Linked DNA regions of Homo sapiens. The protein of the gene in region 2 purifies or fractionates together with the protein of the main gene of each other region. This does not show direct contact. Each region holds a gene or a part of one and is shown on either strand. Other genes may lie near its edges.

Evidence for each region.
Region 1: the proteins of LATS1 (region 2) and PTPN14 purify together in Homo sapiens (affinity purification with western blotting; 2 studies listed by BioGRID). This does not show direct contact.
Region 3: the proteins of LATS1 (region 2) and MYH6 purify together in Homo sapiens (affinity purification with mass spectrometry; one large-scale study listed by BioGRID and IntAct). This does not show direct contact.
Region 4: the proteins of LATS1 (region 2) and TNFAIP8 purify together in Homo sapiens (affinity purification with western blotting; 2 studies listed by BioGRID). This does not show direct contact.
Region 5: the proteins of LATS1 (region 2) and LIMD1 purify together in Homo sapiens (affinity purification with western blotting, with the first as the bait; 2 studies listed by BioGRID). This does not show direct contact.
Region 6: the proteins of LATS1 (region 2) and CRABP2 purify together in Homo sapiens (affinity purification with western blotting; one study listed by BioGRID). This does not show direct contact.
Region 7: the proteins of LATS1 (region 2) and SAV1 purify together in Homo sapiens (affinity purification with western blotting; 3 studies listed by BioGRID). This does not show direct contact.

Annotation. Positions count from the first base shown.
Region 1 is NC_000001.11:214,380,159-214,384,478, forward strand, and holds part of PTPN14 (tyrosine-protein phosphatase non-receptor type 14), read right to left. Parts: coding exon 3,153-4,320; intron 1-3,152. UniProt on the Homo sapiens protein: Protein tyrosine phosphatase which may play a role in the regulation of lymphangiogenesis, cell-cell adhesion, cell-matrix adhesion, cell migration, cell growth and also regulates TGF-beta gene expression, thereby modulating epithelial-mesenchymal transition.
Region 2 is NC_000006.12:149,662,066-149,666,385, forward strand, and holds part of LATS1 (serine/threonine-protein kinase LATS1), read right to left. Parts: intron 2,578-4,320; coding exon of another isoform or gene 2,455-2,577; exon of another isoform or gene 1,251-2,454; coding exon of another isoform or gene 1,152-1,250; exon of another isoform or gene 1,127-1,151; intron 174-1,126; coding exon 1-173. UniProt on the Homo sapiens protein: Negative regulator of YAP1 in the Hippo signaling pathway that plays a pivotal role in organ size control and tumor suppression by restricting proliferation and promoting apoptosis.
Region 3 is NC_000014.9:23,390,722-23,395,041, reverse strand, and holds part of MYH6 (myosin-6), read left to right. Parts: intron 1-718; coding exon 719-974; intron 975-1,133; coding exon 1,134-1,376; intron 1,377-1,523; coding exon 1,524-1,700; intron 1,701-1,984; coding exon 1,985-2,130; intron 2,131-2,389; coding exon 2,390-2,480; intron 2,481-4,320. UniProt on the Homo sapiens protein: Muscle contraction.
Region 4 is NC_000005.10:119,393,619-119,397,523, reverse strand, and holds part of TNFAIP8 (tumor necrosis factor alpha-induced protein 8), read right to left. Parts: 3' UTR 1-3,905. UniProt on the Homo sapiens protein: Acts as a negative mediator of apoptosis and may play a role in tumor progression.
Region 5 is NC_000003.12:45,600,709-45,605,028, reverse strand, and holds part of LIMD1 (LIM domain-containing protein 1), read right to left. Parts: intron 1-4,320. UniProt on the Homo sapiens protein: Adapter or scaffold protein which participates in the assembly of numerous protein complexes and is involved in several cellular processes such as cell fate determination, cytoskeletal organization, repression of gene transcription, cell-cell adhesion, cell differentiation, proliferation and migration.
Region 6 is NC_000001.11:156,699,106-156,702,583, reverse strand, and holds the end of CRABP2 (cellular retinoic acid-binding protein 2), read left to right. Parts: intron 1-1,531; coding exon 1,532-1,710; intron 1,711-1,925; coding exon 1,926-2,042; intron 2,043-2,507; coding exon 2,508-2,558; 3' UTR 2,559-2,978; downstream 2,979-3,478. UniProt on the Homo sapiens protein: Transports retinoic acid to the nucleus. Regulates the access of retinoic acid to the nuclear retinoic acid receptors.
Region 7 is NC_000014.9:50,636,738-50,641,057, reverse strand, and holds part of SAV1 (protein salvador homolog 1), read left to right. Parts: intron 1-164; coding exon 165-308; intron 309-4,320. UniProt on the Homo sapiens protein: Regulator of STK3/MST2 and STK4/MST1 in the Hippo signaling pathway which plays a pivotal role in organ size control and tumor suppression by restricting proliferation and promoting apoptosis.

The DNA.
Region 1 (4,320 bases), on a different chromosome or scaffold from region 2:
CCACCTCTTTCACTTGGGAATCTATTTTCACTGCTCTCCAAAGTTTTGAGAAGGCAATAGTCCTGAAAAATGGGTCCTGAGCTCCTCTCAGCAGTCCTGCTTTCTTTCCACCTGCACTGTAAGGTGACCCTAACTGGGTCTAAGACAAAAAGTAATTAACTTGTCTTTCTCGGGAAAGGATTATTACTCAGTGATAAATCAAAGTATGTCTCTTTGATCCTTCTCACTCACCCTATCAGCTTGTTACCAGAGATAAAAAAAATAATAATAATTCACAAGCTCTGATCTGTGATCAGAGGGCCTTTTCTTCTCAGTGCATCAACTTCTGGCTAGGGGACTACAAGCAGGGAAGTATCTTCAAGGAAGCAGTAGGAGCCAGAATGAGAAGCTATAAAAGCGGCGGAACCATCCATCAAACAGACAAGCAGCTCCAGGAGAGCTGCCCAGAGGGCAAATTCTCACCATACCTGCACACCCCGCCAGCCCCTGAGTTTTCTTTTGCTAAAAGTTTCTCATTGTGTTCTGATCAAGAGGGCCCTTAGAATGGCCATCACCTCTCATGAATTCCCATCAAGCTGGCAAAAGCTGCCCATAGTGAGGAGAGCAGAGAAGTATCTGACCTGTGGGGATGTTGCTTAGGCTATGGGGTGAGTTTTTGCATTAAAAACAAAACAGATGGAGACTCATCTTGGGCTCAAAGCCACTGGCATTGTCACCACCTTGCCTGGCCTCCTGGCTCACTGAAGCAGCTCCTAATCCAACTCTAAGGTCTGCCGGTGTCCTTGAGCTCCTGAGTGTAGCAGATTTGGGGGAAAAAAAAATCAACAGGGAAAATGAAGTAGAAATGGGGTAATTATTTTCTTGAACTAAAGGTTAATGGCTAAAATTTGCTAGTCATTATTACCCACATGAATGGAATGGAAAAGCATCTGGAGAAAAAACAATAGTGAAAATCTCCTTGTTCCTTTGTGATAATGCAAGGAGCTCTAAGGAGGAGACCCATGCCAAGATTTTGGCTACAGGCTATTTGTTTAATACGAGTAACAAGAGAAGAGGATGAATACAACCAAAATGAGGTTATGGGACCATGTGGACATCATTAAGTATCAAGTTGGCAGGGGAAATAGCTAAATTAAATGCTTAGACTGATAGGTTCTTGATGCTAATGTTGCTTTTAAGTGGTCTGGAAGAAGTATTGAAAAATCATTTTCTACCAATAAATTGCTTTATTCCATGCTGGGAAAGCTCTCTCCCAACAGCACCTACCCATTTCTTCCATTCCAAGCCAAAGGTTTTCTTTGCTAGAGGCAAAGGTACACCTTGCACAATTTCCTTCTAGGTTTGCAAAAAGTCATATCTGTATAAAAATCTCTTAGCACTACTCTAGTGGGGCTGGCCAGAACTGTGAGGTTGAGAATGTTCTTAAGGTTTTCCAAAAGTAACAAGGTTGCTACAGATTCAATTTCTGACCCCAGGAACTTGGCTTCCTTAAAACTTTGGGCCTTGATTGTTCTTTTCAGGTTGAATCCCAGTGATGGGTTAGGAAGACCTGGAAATGAAGGTGGCCTAATGGAATCCATCAAAGCAAATTTTAAGTTACAACTGTTTCGGAGTTCCTAAAATTAGGCTTGGCTACCTTATGGTGCAGCCATGGTGAATGAAGAGAAGTCAATCTGGCTTTGATTAGTTCTAGTTAATAGGTTTTTTTTAAAGGAGTGAAAATGTTCATGGCAAGCAGCAATGGAGATTTTTTTTTGTTTTTCTGAGACGGGGTCTTGCTCTGTCATCCAGGCTGGAGTGCAGTGGTGCCATCTCGGCTCACAGCAACCTCCGCCTTGTGGGTTCAAGTGATTCTCCTGCCTCCCTCCTGAGTAACTGGGATTACAGGTGCACGCCACCACACACGGCTAATTTTTGTATTTTTAGTACTGATGGGGTTTCACCATGTTGGTCAGGCTGGTCTTGAACTCCTGACCTTGTGATCTGCCCACCTCGGCCTCCCAAAGTGCTGGGATTACAGGCGTGAGCCACAGTGCCCAGTCGAGATTTTTTAAAGTAGCTATAATCCAAACATTTTCTCATTAGTAAGAGCAGATTCACTTCGTTGTTCTATATGTGCCTGCATAGTCCTGTTCTGACAACTTAACTGTCTCCCCAAATTGTACAATATATTTTTTTAAAGCGATGAGGTTTAGTCCTGTCATCCAGGCTGGAGTGCAGTGGCAAAATCATAGGTCACTAAAGCCTTGAATTCCTGGGCTCAAGCGATCCTCCCACCTCAGCCTCCTGATTAGCTAGGACTACAGGCTCCTGCCATCATGTCTGGCTGGTTCTTTTTTTATTATTATTTTATTTTAGAGATAAGATCTCATTATACTGCCCAGGCTGGCTTCATACTCCTGGCTTCTAGTGCTCTTCCTACCTCAGCCTCCCAAGTAGCTGGGACTACAGGTGTCCCCCACCATACCTGGCTCTGTACATATTATGAAGAAGAGCTATTCATGTCTAGTACTAGGATGGATCTTCAAGTGGTAATATGTATGTATATATGTATGTGTGTATTCACGTATGTGTGTGAATTTTTGACAGAATAAGTTCAATGGAGAATTATTTATCCAATTACTAAGTTATATATCCAATTACTATAATTTTCTTGAATCTGTGTGAAACATCTATTGAAAGAAAATCTGAATACAAAGCTAGACATATCACAGTCCAGACAATACTGGTGAGTCTTGACTTACGGATCTATACAGAAGGCGGTATAGGGATGTTGCTCTTTAATACCTAACTGGATGTGGGGGACAGCTTTCCTTCAAGAAAACAAAACACTAAAAGACACAGCAAGGTGAACTTCCCCAATACCAGCTTACCCAATTGGAAGTCTGAGCTTTGAATAAACAGCAAAATGCTGGCTGAGGCACTGGCCTCAATAACGTACCAAGTACACCTGTTAGAAGCCACAAATGAGAATGGAAGATTTATCTGAAAGGGCAAAAACTCAACATTTTGTGTAATAAAGTACTACCTTTTAAATGCTCAATGATTCCTTAAAAACCTACCACGTTCCCTGCATAAGCCCTGCCCCTTGCTCAGTGCCTGAAGCATGTGCTTTCACACTGGAAAATGCCCTGGGAGAGGAGGACACTCACCCTGATCATCATCTCTCTCTCTATAATGCTGTCTTCCAGGGAAAACATTTCAGACACAGGTCTCTCCTTCACAGGCTCTTTTTTGACCCGCTCCTTCACACTAGTCAGGTCGGGTTCCGAGATGGATGGGCCGAGAGAGGCCCCGTTGACAGCCGGCGGGTCAGTCCGAGACATGCTGATGGCCTTGGCTGGCCCATGCCTCAGCACCCTGGCTCTGGCCATGGCGGGAGGAAGGCTGGCTTGGTCCTGCCTCAGAGCCCCATTGCTCACACTCTTCCTTGGACCGGGGTACTCAGGCGGGGGCTTGTTGGGGATGCGGGCCAGGGCCGCCTGCAGCTGGGCACTGTACTCCATCTTCTCCCGGAGCATGGGGATCTGGGGCACCGATTCTGGAGCCTCCTCCTCCTCCTCCTCACTCTCGCTGCTGTGGATTAGCATAGTGGCATCAGAGAAGGTCTTCTTGTGGTGATACTGAGGGAGCTGGGGGACCTCGTGGCTGCCTGACCCCTCCTCGGGCGGTCCCTGCTCCCGGAGCGTGTTGCGGCGAGCCATGGGGAGGTGGAGCGACTTGAGCGTCATGGCCTCCATGCCCCGCACCATGCTGTTCATCACCTCCAGGCTGTGGCGCTTGTTCACAGTGCCGTGGTGCTTGGTGGCCGTGAGGGGCTCGCTCACCTCCTGGAGAGACTGATGAACCACCGGAGAGCTGTCCTCTTGGAAGGTCTTCACCGAGAGCTGCACCTTCCGGGTCACCAGGTCCGGGCTGCTGCCGCTGACGTACTTGTGGCGGTGGCTGGCCAGGTCTGGGGTGCTGGTGGCAGGTCGTGGCCGTGGGTAGGGGGGCGGTGGCCTGAAGAGATAGTTCTTAAGCATGTGGGCCGTGCTGTAGTTATGGCTGCCCTGCAGCTGCATGTTGGCCAGCTCTGGGGTGCTCACCGTGTGCGAGATGGCGCTTGCCCCCGGCTTGCTTGGTACCACATTATTCTTTGGGTTCCTCTGGTCAGATGGACTGACAAGTTTGTTGCTGTAGACCCCCTGTGGCCCATAAGGGACAGTGTAGGGGTGCCTCTCCCGCATCTCCGGTTGGCTGTACACCAGATCCTCTGGCTGGTTGTAGGCATGGGTGTTGATAATGTTGAGGTTTCTCAGAGACTGGCTCTGGCTGTCT
Region 2 (4,320 bases):
AGGTCACTGGAGAAGTCAATTGTTTTAAAAAATGGATGAGCTTTTATTTCATCAGCACCATTCTTGCCTAAGCGATCTTCGGGTCCTCGGCAAAGTTTAATAATAAGATCAGAAGCTTCAGGACTGAGTTTAGCTTGTGGTGGAATGTGAAGAGATGTTTGCCAGTTGATAACCTTTAAAGATTTTTTAAAATTAGGGGGAAGAGATAAATTAGAAAAATAAAGATTTCCTTCAAGTTTTATACCAAAAGTCTCACTGGGCTATTTTTGTATTTTAAATAAATTACATGATATTTTGCTGGAAAATAATTTTTTCTCCTATCCCATCCTCTCCAAGCAACTTCTACTCACATTATAAGACTCACTGTCAGTTTTAATCTCCCCTAGTAAACCTTTTGGCCTATGGTAGAAGTGACTACTTCTACTCTGCCTCCCCTGTACCATATATTTATTTCTATCATATTTCTAATAGCTTGTGGTACCTATTTATGTTTATGTCCTACTGAAATATATCCATTAAGGCTAGGGATTATGTTTTAGTGGTCTTTGTATCTCCTAGTGCTCAGTAAATTGCCTGGCACATACTTAATACATGTTTGATAAAACTTTTTCTGGTGCCAAGCGTGGTGGCTTTTGCCTGTAATCCCAGCACCCTGGGAGGCGGAGGTGGGAGGACTGCTTGAAGCCGGGAAGGTTCAAGACAAACCTGGGCAACAAAGCGAGACCCCCTCTCTACAAAAAAACTTTAAAAATTAGCCAGGTATGGTGGCATGCATCTGTAGTCCTAGCTACTCAGGAGGTTGAAGCAGAAGGATTCCTGGAGCCCAGGAGTTTGAGGCTGCAGTGAGCCATGACTGCACCACTGCACTCCAGCCTGTGTGACAGAGCGAGACACTGTCTCCAAAAAAAAAAAAAAAAAAAAAGAAAAATCTCTGGTTATGAATAAAATGAAATGATGAAGAAAGGAATGCCAAGTGAAGCCAGACTACCTAAGACTACCTAGTCTCTCCCGCTGAACTCTTGGAGGCAGGGGAATTGGTATACAACTCCAAGTACGATATTAAATGGATTTGGGGCAAACTCTGTTAAGTGGTAGAATGCATTGTCATTTAACCAAGTTTAGATACCTTTAACTTGGGCAGGCACTGTGGCTCACACCTGTAATCCTAGCACTTTGGGAGGCCGAGGTAGATGAATTGCTTGAGCCCAGAAGTTCAAGACCAGCCTGGGCAACATGGTGAAACCCCATATCTACAAAAAATACAAAAGTTAGCCAGGTTGGTGGTGTACACCTGTGGTCCCAGCTACTTGAGGTGGGAGGATGACCTGAGCCCAGGGAGGTCGAGGCTAGAGTGAGCCGTGATTGTGCCACTGCACTCCAGCCTGGGCGACAGAGCAAGACCCTGTCTCAAAAGAGGGAAAAAAAATCTTCAACTTGTTGCATGGTAGGCAGTCAATAAATATTTTTTAAAAAGCTGAATAAATGAACAGTATAATCTTCCTTATTTGTAGAGGAGCTAGTCAGCTACTATAGAGGGAAGAAAAATATACTCCCTCGTCTATTATTTGTTCCTTTTAAAGTCTTATCCCAGATTAGAAAATGGAGAGGCTTCAACTAATAATAGAATATTTTAAAAACCCTTTTTGGAAAAAAAAAATGATACAGTTAATAATAGTTATTTATGCTTCCAGTTTCATCACTTATTTCAAACAGGAGAAATAAAAAATATACACAATGAGATGAACAATTTTTTTTTTTTTTTGAAACAGTCTTGCTCTGTCGCCCAGGATGGAGTGCAGTGGCGTGATCTCGGCTCATTGCAACCTCTGCCTCCTGGTTTCAAGCGATTCTCCTGCCTCAGCCTCCTGAGTAGCTGGGATTACAGGTGCCCGCCACCTCGCACAGCTAATTTTTTTGTATTTTTAGTAGAGACGGGGTTTCACCATGTTGGCCTGGCTGGTTTCAAACTCCTGACCTCAAGTGATCTGTCCACCTTGGCCTCCTAAAGTGCTATAATTACAGGCGTGAGTCACTGTGCCTGGCCAAGTTTAATATTTTTTATTTTAAGGTATATTTAGGATTTTTCAGTTTAAGGCAAAAAAAAAAAAAAGAGCACAGCAAAAGATTCAGATAATTCAAAGATGGATGAATAAAATTATATAAACTGAAGCACAGAGAGAAAACATGTAGAATAAAAGAAAGAATAAAGCATAAGAGAAATGGAGGACAGTATCAAAGGAATAGCACATGTATAATCATTAGAGTCTCAAAAGGTAAGAAAGCAAAATAAATCTTTGAAGGGATAATGACAGAGAATTTCCCCAAATCGATGAAAGTCATTAATGTACATTTCAAGAAACTGAGTGAATCTCAACCAAGAAAAATACAAAGAAAACTACACATAGGCACACCATGGTCAAACTGAAGAAAACCAAAGTTAAAGAGAAGAAAACCCTAAAAGCAACCAGAGAGGTCCCAGTTTTGAGGAAGATGTACTACATATACTCTCCTGTCTCCCTCCCACAGAAGGCAGCTATAAAACCTGGTCAGGATGCAGGAAGCAGCTACTTCAAGATCCTGAAAAGTAAATAATAACAGGTAGATTAGGGGAGAAGATGTAAATTTGAAGTACCATTAAACCTGGTGACCATTTAAAAAAAATTATTTTTTTAAAAAATTAATTCTCACTATGTTGTCCACGCTGGTCTTGAACTCCTAGCCTCAAGCAATCCTCCCACCTCAGCCTCCCGAGTAACTGGGACTACAGGCCTCTGCCAGCACACCCAGCTCCATTTTTTTGTCTCTAGTAGTCTGCAGGCTGGACTCAAGGTAGCCCAAAACTTGGAAGAAGCTGAGCACAGAGAGCTCTAGGAGAATTCCCTCTAGTTCAGGCTCAGGGAGTAGAAAAGGAGTTTCCTGGTAGCAACGGAGGTGGCAATAAGAGCCAGTATGCACCTAAAACTGACAGCCAAACCTTCCTCTCCAATTGTAAATAAAATAACAAAGCATGGGGCTGGGTGCAGTGGCTCATCACGCCTGTAATCCCAGCACTTTGGGAGGCCGAGGCGGGTGGATCACTTGAGGTCAGGAGTTCGAGACCAGCTTGGCCAAAATGGTGAAGCCCCGTCTCTATTAAAATACAAAAATTAGTGGGGTGTGGTGGTGCATACCTGTAATCCCAGCTACTCCGGGAGGCTGAGGCAGGAGAATCACTTGAACCCAGGTGGCAGAGGTTGCAGTGAGCCAAGATTGTGCCACTGCACTCCAGCCTGGGTGACAGAGTGAGACAATATCTCATAAATATATAAATTAATAAAGCATGGGGTCCCAAGAAGATGGGTTGAATCTCTGTTGCTCGTTTTCTCTCTGTGTCCTTTTGCCACCTTGTCCTGGATTCAGATGCAGTTATGAGATATTGGCAGAGTTGGATAAGTAAAGCCTCACTTTCTGGTCAGAGAACTAAATAGGGAGCCCCAGGGAACAGGAAAGTACTGGGGACATCACAGAGAGGGAGGAGATTGGGCAAGTGACCCCATTAAGTTGCTTATGAACTGCTGGGCTCCCCCTCCAAACTGTAACTATGTGGATCTAATCCTAAGGAGCATACCAAAGACTTTGAGAACTGAACTAAGGAAAAGACCACAGCCTACAAAGAGATCTATCTGCCTAGAAAGGAAAAGCCTTTGAAACTGACATTGAAATCAAAAAAGACTGGTTGGAACTTGTGGCCTGAACCCAACCGGGTTTAATGCTTGTCAAAACAAGGTCAAAATTCTCCATAAGATCCAGAATCTTGGCTGGGCACGGTGGCTCACGCTGTAATCCCAGCACTTTGGGAGGCCAAGGTAGGCAGATCACCTGAGGTCAGGAGTTTGAGACCAGCCTGGCCAACATAGTGAAACCCCGTCTCTACTAAAAATACAAAAATTAGCTGGGCATGGTAGCACACGCCTGTAGTCCTAGCTACCTGGGAGGCTGAGGCAGGACAGTCGCTTGAACCTGGGTGGTGTAGTGAGCCGAGATCGCACCACTGCACTCACTCCAGCCTGGGTGACAGAGAGAGACTCCGTCTCCAAAAAAAAAAAAAAAAAAAAAATCCAGAGTCTCATAACATATTATTCAAAATGTCCAGGATACAATCCAAAATAACTTAGTATACAAAACAAACAAACAAAAAACAAAAACAGAAAATTTCAACATAGAAAAAGTCAGTATTGATATGACATAGATGCTAGAATTTTCTGACAAAAACTTGAAAGTAGCCATTATAGGCCGGGTGCGGTGGCTCATGCCTGTAATCCCAGCACTTTGGGAGGCTGA
Region 3 (4,320 bases), on a different chromosome or scaffold from region 2:
ACTACAAAAATTAGCTGGGCATGGTGGCAGGCACCTGTAATTCCAGCTACTCAGGAGCTGAGGCAGGAGAATCGCTTGAATCCGGGTGGCAGAGGTTGCAGTGAGCCGAGATTGTGCCATTGCACTCCAGCCTGGGCAACAAGAGTGAAACTCCATCTCAAAATAAATAAAGTAAAATAAAAATAAAGATACATTCATATGTGGTTAAAGTAATTTTTGAAAAAGCAAGGAAAGGAAAAATAAGATTCAGAGTGGCGGCTGCTCCTGGCGGGGTGACAGGGGTGTAGGAAGGAACGCACAGGTAGATCAATGGCTGGTAACATTTCAGCTCCTGTTTCAGTGGTAGGTTCATGGATAGTCATTTTGCTTTCATGCTGCATAACTTACATACTTATTATAGACATTCTTATATGTAAACCCCTACATAATTTTTAACATATTTGAAGTTCTTATGAGAATAGAAAAACCAAACAGAGTAGACATTCTATAAGTGGTAGTTTCCATTACCACTAATATCCCAGCTGGGAGGATATAAACTGCCCTTTCATCAAATTGATTAATAAATATTTATCAAGCAACTCCATGTTCAGTGTAGTGATGTTGGAGGTGGGTGTGCACAAGAAGGAAGTCTACGTGCCTACGAACTTGCTTAGTAGGGCCCATGATTGGGAAGCTCTCTTTTATAGTGCCCCACCCTGCCTCCACGTTTCCTTGCCAGGGATGCCCTGCTGGTAATCCAGTGGAACATTCGGGCCTTCATGGGGGTCAAGAATTGGCCCTGGATGAAGCTCTACTTCAAGATCAAGCCGCTGCTGAAGAGCGCAGAGACGGAGAAGGAGATGGCCACCATGAAGGAAGAGTTCGGGCGCATCAAAGAGACGCTGGAGAAGTCCGAGGCTCGCCGCAAGGAGCTGGAGGAGAAGATGGTGTCCCTGCTGCAGGAGAAGAATGACCTGCAGCTCCAAGTGCAGGCGGTGAGGCCACGTGATTATCTCTTCAGCCCTCTCCTCCCCTCCCCTAGATTATAGCCCATCTCACAACCAGGGACTGGGAGTCTAGGAGTGCCAGCTCTTTTTAAGACCCTAGGTCTCCTCTCTTTAACCATCAGCTTCCTCCCTGTTCTCTTCTCCCAGGAACAAGACAACCTCAATGATGCTGAGGAGCGCTGCGACCAGCTGATCAAAAACAAGATTCAGCTGGAGGCCAAAGTAAAGGAGATGAATGAGAGGCTGGAGGATGAGGAGGAGATGAACGCGGAGCTCACTGCCAAGAAGCGCAAGCTGGAAGACGAGTGCTCAGAGCTCAAGAAGGACATTGATGACCTGGAGCTGACACTGGCCAAGGTGGAGAAGGAGAAGCATGCAACAGAGAACAAGGTGAGGGCAGCTCCCTCTGGCTTCAGCCCAGGTCTCCTCAAGACTCCCAGACTAGAGTGTTGTCCTGGTCCTTGGCATGGAGGTCCCCATAGATGTCTCCAGGCTGGTGATCTTTGACCCTAAAGGGGATGGGTTTTTGGTCGGCAGGTGAAGAACCTAACAGAGGAGATGGCTGGGCTGGATGAAATCATCGCTAAGCTGACCAAGGAGAAGAAAGCTCTACAAGAGGCCCATCAGCAGGCCCTGGATGACCTTCAGGTTGAGGAAGACAAGGTCAACAGCCTGTCCAAGTCTAAGGTCAAGCTGGAGCAGCAGGTGGATGATGTGAGTAGTAAGAACCATGCTCCTGCTCTCAGAGCAAGATTTTGCAGGCAACACCAATGGCCCAGAAAGTCCTGATCCCTAGAATTAACTTCTATGGCCCCTGAAGCTTTTTTGCTCTCTGTAGTTCCTCACTACAGTAGGTCTCTGAATCCTTTGTGCTTGCAGGATTTCTCTGTTGGTTTGACTTCCAATCCCACTGGACTTCAAGTTTAGAAGGAGGCAAAAGAGCATACACTATGGATTTCATGTTTTCCACACTTTGCTTATTTTCTTCCCTCCAACAGCTGGAGGGATCCCTAGAGCAAGAGAAGAAGGTGCGCATGGACCTGGAGCGAGCAAAGCGGAAACTGGAGGGCGACCTGAAGCTGACCCAGGAGAGCATCATGGACCTGGAAAATGATAAACTGCAGCTGGAAGAAAAGCTTAAGAAGTAGGAGACTGTGGTGGCCAGGAGGGGCTAATGGAGGTGTCTGGCCTGGTAGATAGAGTGCAGGGTGCTGCGCCTCCACTGGCCACAGTTGCCTTGGGTATGCTGGGAATAAGGTCAATCACAGCCCTCTTCCGCCACTTTCTGGGCTGGCGAGGGGAGGGGGAGGTGCCGATTCTGGCATACTAAGGCCAAGAAGAGAATGAGCCCCAGAGGAAGGAAGGCTACCTGTCACTCCCCCACCCCCACCCTTCTCCTGCAGGAAGGAGTTTGACATTAATCAGCAGAACAGTAAGATTGAGGATGAGCAGGTGCTGGCCCTTCAACTACAGAAGAAACTGAAGGAAAACCAGGTGACTTTTTTTCCCAGTGCATGAAAGTGGGAGCTCAATAGCCCTGAGGTAACTGAGGCTGCAGCAGCTGCTTAGGGTTCTACACAATATCTGGAACTCCAGGCAGCCTCATAGACCCAACCATCCCTGACTTACAGGCGCTCAGGAACACTAGCCTTCCCCCATAGAGCAAGAATACATTACGTTAGCAAAACTGTTTGAGAAGGGGGACTCATACCTACTAAAGGGCTTCTCCTTCTGAGATCTGCTCTGCCTCAGGGACTTTCTACTCTAAGACAAATGATAGAGCTCTATTCTCCTCTAACCCTTCCTCTGGTAGTTCAGCCCTCTGAACGCAGGGTGAAAAAAAAAAAAGGCTTCAAGGAGCACCTTCCTGTGAGCTGCTCTGTTCATATTCTTCCCGGTACTAACCCCAGCCACTAACCCAGGCTGAGTCCCCATAGGGCACTCATGATAAGAGCCAATTCCAACAACTGTGAGCAAGTCACTTACCCTCCCTGATCCTCAGATTCTCTTCTCACCTGTAAAATGAGACTGACAATACCTACCACACAGGACCAGAGGGGATAATGTATTTGAAACCATTTTGTCAACTAGGAAATTCTATACAAGTATCATATTAATATAGCCCAATTTAGAGAAGTCAGCCAGCCACTAGCCTAAGAAGGTATTGTTTTGTCTTCTCAATGGCCTTCTCATTCCTCTGCAGCTCAAGATTTAGTGAACAGCCATAGTCTCCCTTAGCTTTAATGAACCTCAAACCCTAATGTGCTTTTAGTATCGGGTTTGTCAGAAGAGACCTGGAAGTCCACTGCCATCCCCATTATAGAGCTACAGAAGCTACATGGCCAGGTCTGGACATAGTGACCCCAAGGGCAACAGGAACTCGGCTACTGGGGCGGGACCTTGTCCTCTCACTTTGGGGCAGACTGTGGCTGGTAGAAAGAGGTAGTCTCCCCTCTGCACTTGAGGCCCATGGCCCAGGCTGCAAGTAATGTATGAACACAATTCCACTCCTCTGGGGCTGCACAGGGACTGGCCCGCCTTCATTAGTAATTTGCCCTCCCATCTTCTTGGATGCCCCTTCTGGGTTTTAGCTAGAATATCGGGCCATCCTCAGGTTCTTCTACCCTAGGTCTGGGCAACTTGTTTGGCCTCTTGGACACAGAATAACAGTCCTGTTAGTCTCATCAGCTCTCGGCAATAGGCTATGGCTCCTCCTTCATCCCCAAGATCTTGCTCAGAAGTCCCACCTTCTCCATCCTGGGAGCAGAGGCATGGTGGTCCTCTCTGCTGCTTGTAGGACCCATCCATGAACAGTCCATTAAAGCTGTCCATAACCCGAGGTGAAGGGATTTCCACTGAACCCCCGTTTTGCTCCTGGCTAGCCAGACAACAGATCAAAATGGTAGATACGATATTCTCCCAATTTAGTCAAGACCAAGGCTAAGGCCCAAAAAATGAGGTAAGGGCACTTAAAGAGGATAAGGAGATGAGGTGAAGAGGAGAGTAGCCTGCTAGCACTTTCCTGGCCTGGAAGGGAGCAATCATGTTGAAACCCAGCCCTGGGCATAAACACAGCAAGCCTGGGAGAGCAAGGAATATGGTTGATTGGACTTTGTGGTTAACTTGGAGAATTGCAAAGGTATCTGATTGTTTCGAGGCATGTTGTCACAAATATTTGTAAAATACAAGCACTCATTTTCCCGTCTTATGAATAGCGCAACAGAGCCTAGTGAATCTGGGGACTCTGAACTTCTTGATCTCACAGGATACCAGGATCCCCCTTCAACCACAGGTTCTCAGGATTTGGGGCTGCAGATGCTCACACTGGGTCTGA
Region 4 (3,905 bases), on a different chromosome or scaffold from region 2:
ATGCTCAAGAATGCAATATATCAAGTAAAACACTGAAAAGTTCAACTAGTTTAGATAATGCAAGTATGGAAATGCAAGATTGACTAAAACTTTTAAATATTATCACTCTTATTAACATGCTAATTTAATTCATTTTACTGGAGTATTTTAATTTCCTGGCAATTGAATAGCACTTTTTACTACAAATATTTCATCATTTGGATAAACATATTCTTTTATTTACCATTTGTCAGGTTTTGTATGCTAAATTGCAACTGCTTATATACACTCATCAAGTATCTCAAGGATAAATTAAAATTCTTAGTAAAAATCCAACTGACCGGTACAGACCACAAAAAGTACTATTTTAAGCCTTTGGGGGCTTAAAAATTGTGTGTGTGTGTGTGTGTGTGTGTGTATTCACATGGTGGGAGAAAAAGAACTTTCCAGATAATTGTGAATGGCATACTATTATATAAGAGTTTAAAACGCAATATTTCTGTACGATCAAAGTTCTTAACTCATGCTTTTTTTTTTTTTTTTTTTTTTTGAGACGGGGTTTCGTTCTTGTTGCCCAGGCTGCAGTGCAGTGGTACAATCTCAGCTCACTGCAACCTCTGCCTCCCAGGTTCCAGCGATTCTCCTGCCTTAGCCTCCCAAGTAGCTGGGATTACAGGTGCCTGCCACCACATCTGGCTAATCTTGTGTATTTTTAGTAGCAGTGGGGTTTCACCACGTTGGCCAGGCTGGTCTCGAACTCCTCACCTCAAGTGATCCTCCCACCTCCGCCTCCCAAAGTTCTGGGCTTACAAGCATAAGCCACCGCACCCACCCCATGCTTTACTCTTAAACTAATTTTGAGTTGTATATGAAAGGCCTAATAATCAGAAAAAGGCTATTTCTTAACTTAACTTGCTCAAATATTTTGAGCCTCCAAATCTGGAAAATAATGTTGAAGTTTGAAACTGATGCCGTGCCTACTCTAGGGAGCACAGTACTGAACTGCTGCTTCCTTGCTTCTCTTGGTGAATGCACATTGAGTGCCTTGTCATGCTCTGAACCCACCACTGCTAGGGACAGCTGTGGGGGAGCAGCTCACTGCACCTCAGAAGTCAACGTTAAAAGTCATTGTGAGCACCTAGAAGTGAAGTTCCACGAGACAGAAAACTGAGCCACAAGATGCCCCCAAAGTAGGAGTCATGTTGAAAACTTTGAAAAATGTCTTTGTACAACATCTACACAGATCTTTAGAGAACAGGCCAGACCTGTGCTGACTTAGGTACTGCCTAAAATGTCACTATATGAGGAACCATTTCAGCAGCATACTGCCCACGCTTCTCTGAGCCAAAGATGTTCCTAGCACTGCCTTTAGCCATATCATCTTTAAGTGAAAATAAGATTTTATACATATTCCGGCTGGGACACCTCGAGCACATGTGACCTCAGGAAATTCCTTAACTTCTATTCCCCTAGTTTCCTTATCTATAAGATGGTGAAGATTGTGGCAGAATTAAATGAGTTAATGTGCCCGACACATAATACAAACTACTCTGCGTTAGTTGTCCATTAGTATTATCATCCACTTATCATATCCACTCATAATTTTTGCAGAGAAGCCACCAGCACAAAATAAAATCAATTACAACACAATTTTTTTCAAAACGTGAACAGATACTATTTTATAAAAAGGTTCATAGGATCCCCAAATTAGTATTAACTCGGCTCAGATTTATCTACCCTAAGCACGTGGGGATTCTTCCCAGCTCCCACGCTCCTTGCCACCCTAAATGCTCAAGGGGAGTCCTATTGTATTAGAAATGAACTTGCTAATCACGACTTTGGACCTGATCCAAGACATGCTTTTCAGGCACAGCACTGGTAAGGAGATGGGTCCCCTCCAGAAAATGCTGAGAAATGGTAGCAAACAGGATTCCCTCCTTCGGTCTACTCCTCACTGCCTTCCCTCTGTGGGAGATGAAGCATTGCTCCCCCAATCCCATGCACATTTGATTGCTAGCCTGCTGGCACAACCCTATGATCCAGTGTGTCCAGAGAGATCCAGATTTCTCCCTCCGTACGTTTTCTCTCTCTGGTTGGTCCTGTCTATAGCTACAGATGAGCAAGAAGCATCCATGGACTGCCCAGGGCTTTCGTTTCCCATACCTCTGCTGTTTGAGATCTGGAGAACAGAACACATCCAGTCAGTAGCTCACACCCCCCATCACATTCTCAGCCTTCACATGTGAGGAAAACAGCTGGTCAAGGAAGGCTGCTGAATTCCATTTATAAGCCACTTAGCAAGTTATGAAGCTAGAAGGGTCATTTCTGTAGTCACTGTGTTATTGTTACAGCATATACTGATCACCTACTGGCTCTAGGAAGTGAGAATGATACTTTCAGTTCAAATCTTAGTGTCAGGATTTAATATCAAACAGGAAGAAACTCTACACCTTTGCTGCTTGTCTTAGCCAAGCAAATGAGGGTGTCAGAGAAACTGACCACCCTCTCTAGGCTGAAATGGGTTAGAGCAGATCTCAACTTCTGGAATTTTTAGTTGTGGAACCTTTCCTGGTAAACTATTATTTTAATGTCAATATTCTGGGAGGCAGGCAAATTTAAGGCAAGAGAGTACACTAAATCATAGGCACAGTGGCTCACACCTGTAATCCCAACACTTTCGGAGGCCGAGGCAGGCAGATCATTTGAAGTCAGGAGTTCAAGACCAGCCTGGGCAACATGGTGAAACCCCATCTCGACTAAAAATACAAAAATTAGCTGGGTGTGGTGGTGCATGCCTGTAATCCCAGCTACTTGGGAGGCAGAGGCAGGAGAATCACTTGAACCTGGGAGGCAGAGGTTGCAGTGAGCCAAAATCATGCCACTGCATTCTAGCCTAAACAACAGAGCGAGACTCAAAAAAAAAAAAAAAAAAATCATAGACACAGTGACAATGGAAATGTTTATTGCTGGTGGTTGGGTCTGTCATTTCCTAGAGGACATAGCTGGCCAGCAGATTTTCATTTCTTTTTTACAAAATAAACAAATGCCTACTTTATTATTTATACACAGAAAATTATATAGAAACACCACACAAACTGCTTGAAATACAAATATTCTTTGGTTTACTTATCAAAGTAAAAAATAACAAAAATCTTATCAGTTAAATAAAAAAGTGACATTCTTTATCAAGCCTTCTTAAACACTGAAACGCACGCATTTTTATGCTCATGTTCTTTAGCAGTATTTCTCCCCTTTTGCCCCTCATTCCCCTAAATTGTTTCAATGAGTTCATCTGTAGAATGAAGATTGTTACCTTTCTTAATGCTACTTACTTTTTATTATCTCAATATCAAGACCAATCTAGACTTTTTTGTCTCTTACATGTGAAATGGATGTAAAAAATGGAAAATTCACCAGCACTTTTTAAGATAACATAAAAGAAGCCCTAAGCAAGCATTTCAAGGCAATGACACACCATTACATTTCTGAGAAATTTAAGTATCATTGGTACTTAAAAGGAGAACTCAATTCCAGAAGCATATTCTTATACTGGACATTATTCATAATAGCTAATATAGTTCATTTCCACAGTACTGATTTCAGATAAGCCATTTTTTTTTTCCTGAGGGTTGACTACCTCAGACTTAAATCCTGAATGTCGATGACTCAATCTTAACAAAACAGTCAGCTGTAGACATGAAAATTGAATTGTTTCAAAAGGAGCAATGATAGCAAGAGAAAGTTCTTGGCATTTTAAGAAAAGTACATATACATAGCAAGAAATGAAAGTAAATCAAAATACATAGCTTTGTACATGTTAGAAATATCCAATGTGCCACCAACACAACAACTGCCCTATTAAAAAGTCCTCAGGTCTGGAGACATCTGTATTTTTCTTTGTATAACTACATTTGCATTACCCAACC
Region 5 (4,320 bases), on a different chromosome or scaffold from region 2:
GTTCTGTCTCCTATGTGACAGTCACAAATCAACAGATGTAAAGAAACATAACTTTTTAAGACCCCTGGCAAGAATGATCATGTCAAAATAACCGTTTCATGTTCTGGACTGTTAATGGAAAGAGCAGGAGGGCTGGATGGAAGAAACAAGACATTCTTTCCTGGTCACAAAAGAACAGAGCAGAAACATACCATACCAAGGAGGGAGGACTCCAGAGAGAAAGCATGACGGGACAGGCAGACGCTGTGGGAATCCATGTCGGGACGCGCCAGGGCTACAGCTCCCAGCAGATCAGCCTGCTTGGAAGGGATTGGTGGCATTGGCAGCACAGCACTGGCCAGAAGAACATCCGTTGGGAGCCACCAAGGCAAGGACCTCAACAGGCTCAGAGAAAACAAGGCTGGGATGACGGGGAAGAAGGAGCAAGGTGAGGCACAGGAGGGGTGGGCCAGAGCGAGGGTCTCCAAGGTCACAGTGAGAGGAGTGTGAATCCATCGCACTGGCTGTCCTTCCCCACAGCACTCAACCCAGTGCTGAGAACACAGTGTGACCTGACACGTATGCATCATTGACCTGCTGATTGAGCAAAAAGATGAACCTATCTAAATGAAGTTTGAGAGCTTCCTCACCTCTGCCCCTGGAAAACTCTGAAGAGAAGTGCTGTGGAGAGAGATGGCATGCAGGGACGGGGCTGAGGCACATGATGTAGTCACATCCCTTCAGAGAACACAGAGGACCGAGACGGTATCCAGTCCTTGACCACTGACCACACAGGAGTCACCGCTGTTACAGGGCGAGCTTCCAGCCCAGGAGGACATACAGTGGAGGTGGCCCTGGGCAGACGGCACCAACTCCTTGCTGTCTCCAGCCCAAGCTTCACCCAGGTCAGCCACACGATCTCCATTCATCCATCCCCAAACATGCCATAATGTGTTTTTACATTTTCCAAGTTTTTAAAAGTTACATCAAATCCCATGTTTGTTTAAAAGCCCATTTTTGCTATCAGAAATCAGACAGCTGATCCTTGGACACTTGGTGGTGACTGTACAGGGGCACAAGGAGCGTCCTGGGTGATGGTCATGTTCTGCCTTGATCTGGGTGTTGGCTACACAGATGGGTTCACTTTGTGAACATCTATGATATGTGTACATCGTACATCAATAAAAGGTTAAGAATACATGTCTTCCTGACTTAGGAAGATTGCCTGGTCCATTAAAAAAATGCATGGGCTGGGCACAGTGGCTCACGACTGTAATCCCAGCACTTTGGGAGGCTGAGGTGGGAGATCACTTGAAGCTGGGAGTTCAAAACCAGCCTAAGCAATATGGTGAGACTCTGCCTCAATTTTTTAAAAGAATGCACAGAGACTGCCCGATGTCTAAAGGATTGGGCATCCCCATATCCCTGGGTGTGCATCTGCAGGGCCAGAGAGATTGGAGTCTTGAATGTCACTGACAAATGTTACCAGCAGAGTCAGAAATTTACTTCCATGTCAATGGAAACCTGGATTCGGCTGGTTCAAATTATGGCACATCTCCAAAAGGCATTCTGGTGGCAGTCCCCACGTCATCATATCTAGTCATGCCAGTCACTCAGACAGAGGCACACAGCTGTTGAGCTTCTGTCACTTTCTTCCACTTCAGCAGTTGGTTTGGGTTTAATGAAATGCCTGATATGGGAGGAGGCTGGTTAGCCAGTGCCTCTGGGGAACACAGACAGACCTCTGTTCTGGAATTCTGGAGGGGCTGCTTTATTACAAGACTAGCCCATGTTGTTTCCTTTTATGTGAAAAATGCTCGATTTTTTAATCTAGGCTGGAATTAAGCACCATATTTCAAGCATCTATTGCTAATAAAGTCTGATAAACAGTAATTAAAAAGTCATGAAGGGCCAGGTGCAGTGGCTCACGCCTGTAATCCCAGCACTTTGGGAGGCCAAGGCGGGCAGATCACCTGAGGTCAGGAGCTCAAGACCAGCCTGGCCAACATGGCGAAACCCTGTCTCTACTGAAAATACAAAAATTAGCCGGGCATGGTGGTGCGCGCCTGTAATCCCAGCTATCCAGGAGGCTGAGGCAGGAGAATCGCTTGAACCCGGGGAGGCGGTGGCCGCAGTGAGCCAAGATCGCACCACTGCACTCCAGCCTGGGTGACGGAGTGAGCCTCCGTCTCAATTTAAAAAAAAAAAAAAAAAGTCATGAAAACGAGGAGCAGCTCAGTGTGCAACAGACTGTCAGATGGAAGGGCATCTGTAGTCATGTAGACATGCAGATAGGGCATCTGTAGTCATGCAAATAGGACATGTAGGTACATAGATAGGACATCCACATGTTCCTTGCTTGGACTGCTCGTTTAACCCTGTGCATTGCCAGGAAAGTAAAATCAAGTAAGACAGGCTCCCTGGCCCCGGTCAGGGCAGGGCCATTCTCAGGAGGAGTCACACCTGCTTTCAGGATCCCAGGCTAAGGGGGGTCTGTCACTGCAGTTTTCTGGGTTAGGATACTGCTGAAAGGACATCCACCAAAGACAGAAAAACCAAACACAATGCCAACCCTTCCTTTCTCCATGCTGGTGAGGAGCAGGCCTGTCCATCCACTTCCTGGGTACAGGAGACCCTGGAACCTGCTTATTCTTGCCTTTCCCACCCCTCTGGTCCTAACAGCGAGCAGAATGTGGCTCTCTCCTGGTTAGCTTTAGCCGTGACAGATCCCCAGGCCCACCCACAGCAGGGAGGGTGAGCACAGGGGCTTCAGGTCCAGGGGACACAAAAGTCCACAGCCCAGGCCGGGCGCAGTGGCTCACGCCTATAATCCCAGCACTTTGGGAGGCCAAGGAGGGTGGATCACAAGGTCAGGAGATCGAGACCATCCTGGCTAACACAGTGAAACCCCATCTCTACTAAAAACATATATATAAAAAATTAGCTGGGCGTGGTGGCGGGCGCCTGCAGTCCCAGCTACCCGGGAGGCTGAGGCAGGAGAATGGCTTGAACCTGGGAGGCGGAGCTTGCAGTGAGCCAAGATCGCGCCACTGCACTCCATCCTGGGCGACAGAGCGAGACTCTGTCTCAAAAAAAAAAAAAAAAAGTCCACAGCCTGAAATATGGGGGAAGAAGGCATGGAAAACGCAAGGAGCCCACAAAAGCTCCCTACAGTACGTGGGTGGAGAATGAATCTGGAGGGGCAATAGAAGGCATCCACTCAGACGTGAGAGACCACCTAGTCCCACCATGCAAGTGGTCAGAGCAGAAGCAAAATCCCGACTGGTATGGGAGCACCACTACTTGTACCCATATGGTCTTGAGCAAGTCACTTAACCTCTCTGGCCTCGGTTTCTCAACTGTAAACAGAGAATGGTGCCTACATCAAAACTAAGTGTGCAGGTTAAATGCCAACAAGGCCCACAAAGCACTGAACTCCAGTGCCCGGCACACCACTGGCACTTGACACACGGTAGCTACTACTAGAACCATAATGCCCAAGTCACCCGCTCCTACCTGCCCCCAGGAAGGGGGCACTGTGGGGATGCTGCAAAGGCCCTTCGATGAAGGCGAGGACAGGGGAGGGCACAGCTGCTGGGGTGCGGCAGGCAGGTTGCCCTCCTGTCAGCCCCTGAAGAGACTATCCCAGCTGCACAGAGCTGCCTCGCCCAAAGTCACCATCTTCCTGGGCAGCCCACAGCCAACAGCTGATCCATGAGGGAGTGTGAAGGCCAGGCCATGTCAGGCCAACTAGGATGACCCTAAAGGACTTTTCCAGCTCCCAGGCTCCCTGCGGGGTCAGGTCCCAGCAGCTCAGCTCTCCTCTACCCACTCCTGATTCCTTCTCCATCTTCCACAGGTGGGGACCCCAAAAGCACCTTTTAATAAGCCCTTGTATGGTCAACTCTGTCTCAGTCAGCTTCCCAGGAAACCCAGCCTATGACAAGTGGTTTATTTGTGGGGTTTTTTGTTTTTGTTTTTGTTTTGAGACAGGGTCTCCCTCTGTCACCCAGGCTGGAGTGCAGTGGCATGATCATATCTCACTGCAGCCTCAGCCTCCTGGGCTCAAGCAATCTTCCCACCTCAGCCTCCCAAGTAGCTGGGACTACAGGTGTGCACCACCATGCCTGGCTAATTTTTGTGTTTTTTGTAGAGATGGGGTCTCACTATGTTGCCCAGGCTGGTCTTAAACTCCTGGGCTCAAGCAATTCTCCTGCCTCAGTCTCTTGAGTCGCTGGGATCACAGGTGTGAGCCACCACACCCGGCTTGTGTCCTTTTTCCTTAGAAAGGGAGAAGAGGACCAGTGTGAGGAAGATAGGTGGATCACATGGAGGAGACGG
Region 6 (3,478 bases), on a different chromosome or scaffold from region 2:
TCAGGCTGGTCTCAAACTCCCAACCTCAGATGATCCACCCACCTCGGCCTCCTAAAGTGCTGGGATTACAGGCATGGGCCACTGCGCCAGGTCGTTTTTGTTTGTTTGTTTGTTTTTTGTTTTTTTTGAGATGGAGTCTCGCCTTGTCGCCCAGGCTGGAATGCAGTGGTGTGATCTTGGCTCACTGCAACCTCCGCCTCCCGGATTCAAGTGATTCTCCTACCCCAGCCTCAGCGTCCCAAGTAGCTGGGATTACAGGTGCGCGCCACTATGCCCAGCTAATTTTTGTATTTTTAGTAGAGATGGGGTTTCACTATGCTGGTCAGGCTGGTCTTGAACTCTTGACCTCGTGATCCGCCCGCCTCGGCCTCCCAAAGTGCTGGGATTACAGGCGTGAGCCACTGCGCCCAGACTTTTGTTTTGTTTTGTTTTTGAGACAGGGTCTCTCTCTGTCACCCAGGCTGGAGTGCAGTGGTATGATCTCGGTTCATTACAACCTCCGCCTCCCGGGTTCAAGCAATTCAGCAATTCTCCTGCCTCAGCCTCCTGAGTAGCTGGGATTACAGGTGTGAGCAACTGCGTCCAGCCCTGGCTTTTTTTTTTTTTTGGTAGAGTCGGGGTTTCAGCATGTTGCCCAGGCTGGTATCGAACTCCTGAGCTCAAACAATCCACCTGCCTTGGCCTTGTAAAGTGCTGGGATTATAGGTGTGAGCCACTATACCCAACCTTGATTGGCTTTTGAAGAAGCTGTTATTTCCATTTTACAATTGAGGAATCTAAGGCTCAGGGTGGTTAAGCCATTTGCTCAGGGTCACCCAGCCTGTAAGGGGGCTGAGCCAGGAGGAAATCACAGCCTCCTGGACCTTACTCCAGAGCCTCTGTCTTCCCAGGCTGCTGACCATTCTGTAGAGGGAAGCAGCTGCCCCTGCTCTCTTTCATTGCTGTGGGGCAGAAATTGGGCAAATGAAGACCTATCTAGCACTAGATACGGTGGGTAGATAGGGCAAAAAGGGAAATGGCTCCTACTTCCCAGGACATGAGTGATGGGGTCTGGCCTGTGCTTGGCCAGGGGTACAGTCCCAGTGACTCTGATGAGCTGTCAACAGGGTAGACAAAAGGCCAAAAGTGAAGTAAACAGAGACAACCGGAGCCAGTAGCAGGATGTTTGTTGGGTAGGGGGCTGGGGAGAAGCTGCCCCTGGGCATTCTGGGACTGAAGAGCTGAGACGTGGGGAGCCTGATCCAGACCTGCTGACTCAACAAGGTGGGGCCACAGCTAGGAACAGGACTCCCAGGGGCAGGCCACTGCCTCTCTCCCTCTCCTCCCTAAACCCCCTCATCTTTCAGGGCTGCACCGCCTACCGTCTCCTTCAAGGCACTTTCTTAGACACCCAGGCACCAGGCAGATGCACCCCCCAACACACCCACCCCAAGCAAGTCACAAATCAGCCTGCTCCAACTGTCTTATGGGGAGGGTGTGAGAGAGGTGCCCAAAGGCCCCTAAAAGGTGAGCCTCTCCTCTCTCCCCACAGGGGTGAATGTGATGCTGAGGAAGATTGCTGTGGCTGCAGCGTCCAAGCCAGCAGTGGAGATCAAACAGGAGGGAGACACTTTCTACATCAAAACCTCCACCACCGTGCGCACCACAGAGATTAACTTCAAGGTTGGGGAGGAGTTTGAGGAGCAGACTGTGGATGGGAGGCCCTGTAAGGTGAGTGCCAGAAGGGGCTCCAGGGTCATGGCGTCATTGCCCTGCCTCTCAACCTGCCATTTTCCAGGCTAGCAGTTAACTCCTAGCTTCTCTCTGTCCCAGTAGGGAAAATCCCTAGGTGGTGGTGGGGGCTAGAAAGGGGCTCTCTCCCTTATCCCTCTCACTGCATTGCCCCTGCTATGGGCCCAGCTCACTTGGCCACCTGTCTCTTGCAGAGCCTGGTGAAATGGGAGAGTGAGAATAAAATGGTCTGTGAGCAGAAGCTCCTGAAGGGAGAGGGCCCCAAGACCTCGTGGACCAGAGAACTGACCAACGATGGGGAACTGATCCTGGTAAGTCCTGCCTCCTCCCCACTAATAGCAAACCCAGTGCTACCTTCCAAGATTCTCTGGGAGACCCCAGGGTGCAGGAGACTCAAGAACAACCATGGCTGGACTCCGCACCCTGCTGATGGGACTGCTTGAACAGAACTAAGGTGTCCCTATCCCATACAGTGCCCTGTGTGAATTAGAAATGGTGTTCCTTTTATGCAAGCAAAGGGCATGTACTGAGGGATCCCAGCAGTTCTTCAGGGAGATCTTCCTGGCTTGAGGAGGAGGACGGGCCCCAGGGGCTCTATTGCTATCCTCCCTCCATTGATGCCTGGGCATTCTGGGACCAGCTCCTGCCTGTTGGTCTTGAGCCAAGAAGCAGGTTTGGACCTGGAGGCCAAGCAGAGTACCTCCATTCAACCCTCCTCTCCAAAGCCACAGGACCCCAGGGGCCTCTCAGGCTAACAACTACTTCTGTCCTTCCAGACCATGACGGCGGATGACGTTGTGTGCACCAGGGTCTACGTCCGAGAGTGAGTGGCCACAGGTAGAACCGCGGCCGAAGCCCACCACTGGCCATGCTCACCGCCCTGCTTCACTGCCCCCTCCGTCCCACCCCCTCCTTCTAGGATAGCGCTCCCCTTACCCCAGTCACTTCTGGGGGTCACTGGGATGCCTCTTGCAGGGTCTTGCTTTCTTTGACCTCTTCTCTCCTCCCCTACACCAACAAAGAGGAATGGCTGCAAGAGCCCAGATCACCCATTCCGGGTTCACTCCCCGCCTCCCCAAGTCAGCAGTCCTAGCCCCAAACCAGCCCAGAGCAGGGTCTCTCTAAAGGGGACTTGAGGGCCTGAGCAGGAAAGACTGGCCCTCTAGCTTCTACCCTTTGTCCCTGTAGCCTATACAGTTTAGAATATTTATTTGTTAATTTTATTAAAATGCTTTAAAAAAATAAAACCTGTCTCTGGCTCATTGGGCAGGTAGATAAGTCACCTGAGTTCAACCTTGCCTCTGAAATGTAGTATGGGAAAGACTTGTGTTTCTGCAGCATGGAACTGAGTTATACAACAGGAGAGGACAGTCCTTCCAGTCACCGTTCTAACCACCACCCCTTCGTTTGCTGCTGAATCCACAAGCCTCACCTCCACATTCCCTTCTCCAAGGTCCTTCCTTGGTGTCCTGCTCTGGCTTCCAAGGTCACAAGGGCCTCCTCCTCCTGACCTCTCAGCTGGGGCACTGGGCTCTGAGGAGCTGACTCCCACCTTCTCCCATGTTTTCCATCATGGTGACAGTTTCCTCCTCCTCCTCCAGCTGTTGCTTCCCTCTCCTCCAGCTTCAGCCCATGGGTGACCCCAGGCCTGGCCTTGGCCTCCCACATGGTTCCAGATGAGCTCAACGGCACCCACAAGCTGGCCTTGCAGCTGCCTGGGCCTCTGGGTGAGAGGTCTCATCCTGCC
Region 7 (4,320 bases), on a different chromosome or scaffold from region 2:
ACCAGCCAGAAGAAATATCTTAAAAATACATTACCTTTCAGGTGGTGTAAGTCAGTTTGGACAGAAGGCACACTGAAAAATGCTTAAGTATTATTTGTTCTTTATAATTTCTTGTTTAGATTTTAAGACCTTTATCCTAAAGAATGTCACTCCTTTCTTCTTAGTGTACCTCGGTATGATCAACCACCTCCTGTCACATACCAGCCACAGCAAACTGAAAGAAATCAGTCCCTTCTGGTACCTGCAAATCCATATCATACTGCAGAAATTCCTGACTGGCTTCAGGTTTACGCACGAGCCCCTGTGAAGTAAGTACATTTACAACACAAATTTGTTTGAGGAGTGAGTGAAGGGCTGAATGGAGTCTCTGGGCTGCTCGATCCAAGTAGTGTGCCATATTTTACTCTTAATAATATTCGGCTTCTAAGTAATACGTGACTTGAATAAAGGATGTCATAGTTTATAATGTGTGAAAATCATTAATTAGAAATATTAGTTCTTCAGACATTTATAGAATCTTCATTTCTTTGTGTGCGGGCCTCTGCTATTAGGGATACAAGTAAGAAACTTACATTCTCATAGGAGAAGATTAATTTGTAAATAAGTGATACAGTACTTGTGATAAAAGTAAGGACCTGGGCTTGGCACAGTGGCTCACACCTGTAATCCCAGCACTTCGGGAGGCTGAGGCAGGAGGATCTCTTAAGTCCAGGAGTTCGAGACCAGTCTAGGCAACATAACGAGAGCCCCATTTCCACAGAAAAATTTTAAAAATTAGCCAGGCTTTTTGCATGGTCTGTAGTCCCAAGTACTTGGGAGGCTGAGGTGGGAGGATAGCTTGATCTGAGGAGTTCAAGTTCAGCCTGAGCAACATAGCAGGACTCTGTCTCTATAAAAAATTTAAAAATTAGCAGCATGCTGTGGTGTATGCCTGTGATCTCAGCTACTTGGGAGGCTAAGGTGGGAGGACTGCTTGAGCCCAGGAGTTTGAGGCCGCAGTGAGCTATGCTTGTGCCACTGCACTCCAGCCTGGGTGACAGAGCATGAGAGACCCTGACTGCCCCCCTACTAGTGCCAGAAAAAGGAATGATAGCAGATGGCATTTTCTTTCCTATTTTCCTCTTTTCTTTGTCCCTTGATACCACCTGACCTACAGCTGTATGTTTGTATGCTGATTCTAAATAGTACATAATATCTGTATGCGTTTTTATTTTCCTTAAATCTGGAAGAATATGTGCCTAACTGTTAACCTTAGTATTTCTGGGGGTGGATATGGTTGAGGAGAGTTATTCTTTCTGTTGTATGTTATTTCTACTCTATAGTCATGTTTAATAAGAAATAGCATAATCTTTCCTTTTTGGGGGAAGAGATAGTACTTAAATGGAATTCCTGGTTTCTTACAGAAAGAAACAGATTCCTGAAGATTATAGTCTTTTTGAATTCTGTGGTTCTGTGAGCTAACTATAAAACTCAAGGAAACTAGCAAATAGGTTGTAATTCTTCCAAAATGGGCCAGACTGACAAAAAGGGAGCAAGTACTATACTTCTTTACTGCTTAAAAACTTAAACAAGAGGTCTGGAAGCCTGTTGCTTTCTAGTTGATTCTAATTAATGTTGCTGAAGAGGATGGAAATGGTTAATATTCTATCAACAAAGGGTGAGTGGTTATCTATGAATTAGATAATGAGAATCAATTATCACAACAAAAAGAGACATTTTTGCAAAAAAAATTTGCATGTTTCTTCCTTTTGTTTTTCAGACAATTGAGAATCTGAAATTCTTTAATCCTGAAATTCTTTAATCCTATCTCTCACAGTAATTTACCAACACAATTTTTGCATATACTTCTAAAACTTGATTTAGAAACAGACTGTGTTTTAAATTTGTATTTAATTTTTGTAAAGTTATGTTCCTGTGTCTGCTCACAAAAGTCTATAATGCTTGGTATAACTGTACTCAAGCTGAACTATAGGATAAAATTTTAAAAGTTAGGCCGGGTGCGGCGGCTCATGCCTGTAATCCCAGCCCTTTGGGAGGCTGAGGCGAGTGGATCACAAGGTCGAGAGATCGAGACCATCCTGGCTAACACAGTGAAACTCTGTATCTACTAAAAATACAAAAAATTAGCTGGGTATGGTGGCACGCGCCTGTAGTCCCAGCTACTCGGGAGGCTGAGGCAGGAGAATCATTTGAACCCGGGAGGCGGAGGTTGCAGTGAGCCAAGATTGCGCCATTGCACTCCAGCCTGGGTGACAGAGCGAGACTCCATCTCAAAATAAAATATAATAAAATAAAATTTAATCTTTGACAGCAAAAACATTGTCAAGAACATATTTACTTTCTGTTATTTCTCACACACACACCAAAACACTAGTCCTCAGCAGTGTGTGGCAGGGGTATTTTTTATTCCAGTGGCTTGGCAGTCCTGCAGTGTCACCATTGACCCTGCTCTGGATACAGGTGAAAAAGAGGGAGGAGTGGACACAGTGTTATGGCGGGTGGGTGCAGGGGACTTAGGCTACATGGTGATACCTGGAGCTGAGGATAGCAGCACTGTTGATCTTGAAGTCAGCATGCAGTGTGGACAGGTTATTTTTGGTAGCATTATAGCAACTGGCATTTGTATATATGGCTTATTTATAAGTAGTATTTGAATAGAATACTGCCCTAGGAAAAACAGAGTGAAAGAGATGCTAGAAGCATGGACTACTGGAGTGTTTTACACCCAATTTTCGGAATGATTTACCTGTGTATATACAGTATAAATGACTAAAAGTTAAACTTGTGGAAGCAAATTTCTTGGCTAGTTAAGAAGGAAAGAATGGGAGTTTATACTTTTCAGAAAAAGAAGGAACACTTAGGTGATTATAGGCAGAAGGGTAGTAACTATGTAGAAGCAACAGAGGAAAGAATTTGGAATAGGATTTCCATTCCATGCTTTGCAGTTTTTTCACATCTGTGCCCTTCTTGGAGTGCACTTTCTTCCCCCAGAAGGATTTTCTCTAATCTGATTTTGTTGCTTCTACCCATAATCGTACTCTTGATGCTGAATGCTGATTGGCAAGTCAGAAACTTGGCCAGGCATGGTGGTGCACCTGTAATCCAAGCTACTTGAGAGGCAGAGTCAGGATTGTTAGAGCTTAGGAGTTCTGGGCTGTGATGCACTATGCCAGTCGGATGTCTGTACTCTTTGGCATCAGTATGGTGACCTCCCAGGAGCAGGGACCACCAGGTTGCCTAAGGAGGGGCGAACTGGCCCAGGTTGGAAAGGGAGCAGGTTAATACTACTGTGCCGATCAGTAGTGGCATTGTGCTTGTGATTAGCCACTGCACTTCAGCCTGGGAGACATAGGAGATCTTCATCTCTTAAAAAAAAAAAAAAAAAAAAAAAAACTGACAAAATTGTTTGAAGATTTTTTCTTCCTTTAGACAAAACTTGAATACTTATACAGAATGATATTCGTGTCTTAAAAATAAGTATAATATTTACCATCTTATTTTTGTTCTTTGTTTTCCTTGCTAGAAAGTACACAGATGATAGATTAGTTTAACATTGTTGTAGTTCACCTGGTATAAATGGTAACCATCTTGACTTAGTAGACATTGCTGAATTGCCTCTTAGCTAACTCTGGGAGATTAAGATTTTTTGTTAGGAATTATGAATTTGTTTCCAAGGAGCACATAAAATCTTAAGTTACAAGAATGGTGGATGTTCTAAGAAATACCTTATAACTGTTTCTTCATGGAGGCTCATTGAGTATTTCTTACAGTATCACTCTAATTTATGTTCACAAGTGGTTGGAGTTTCCCATTAAAAAGAACAGAGCTTCCTACCAAAGAAATCTAAATCTATTAATAAATTTGCAGCTCTCAAGTAACTGAGTGAAATTGGCAGTCCAATTAAATATATTTACCTTCCAGTTTTTGCATGTTGTATTACTGACATTTCTGTTACACATACTCAAGTTGAATAGAAACATGTCAAAATGCCAAGTATAGTGGCTCACACTAACTGCTCGGTATGTTTTCTATCTCCCTTTTTTAAAATCTCATTTTAAAATATTAGACAGTCCTTTTGAAAGAAAATGGTATAATATCAAAGAACCACTGGGTAGGAAATACTATAAACGATCATTAAAAATAATGCTAGAGTTTGCAATCAAAGCTTCCTATTATGTCTGCTCTGCAGTATGATTTGAGAGGTATAATTTCGGGTATAACATGCGTTTCCCTAATTCAAGTTCTTTGTCTAGTCTTAGTGGATATTAACATTGAAAACCACTATTTTGAAGCATCTTGGTCCATAGTTCTCTTCCTTTT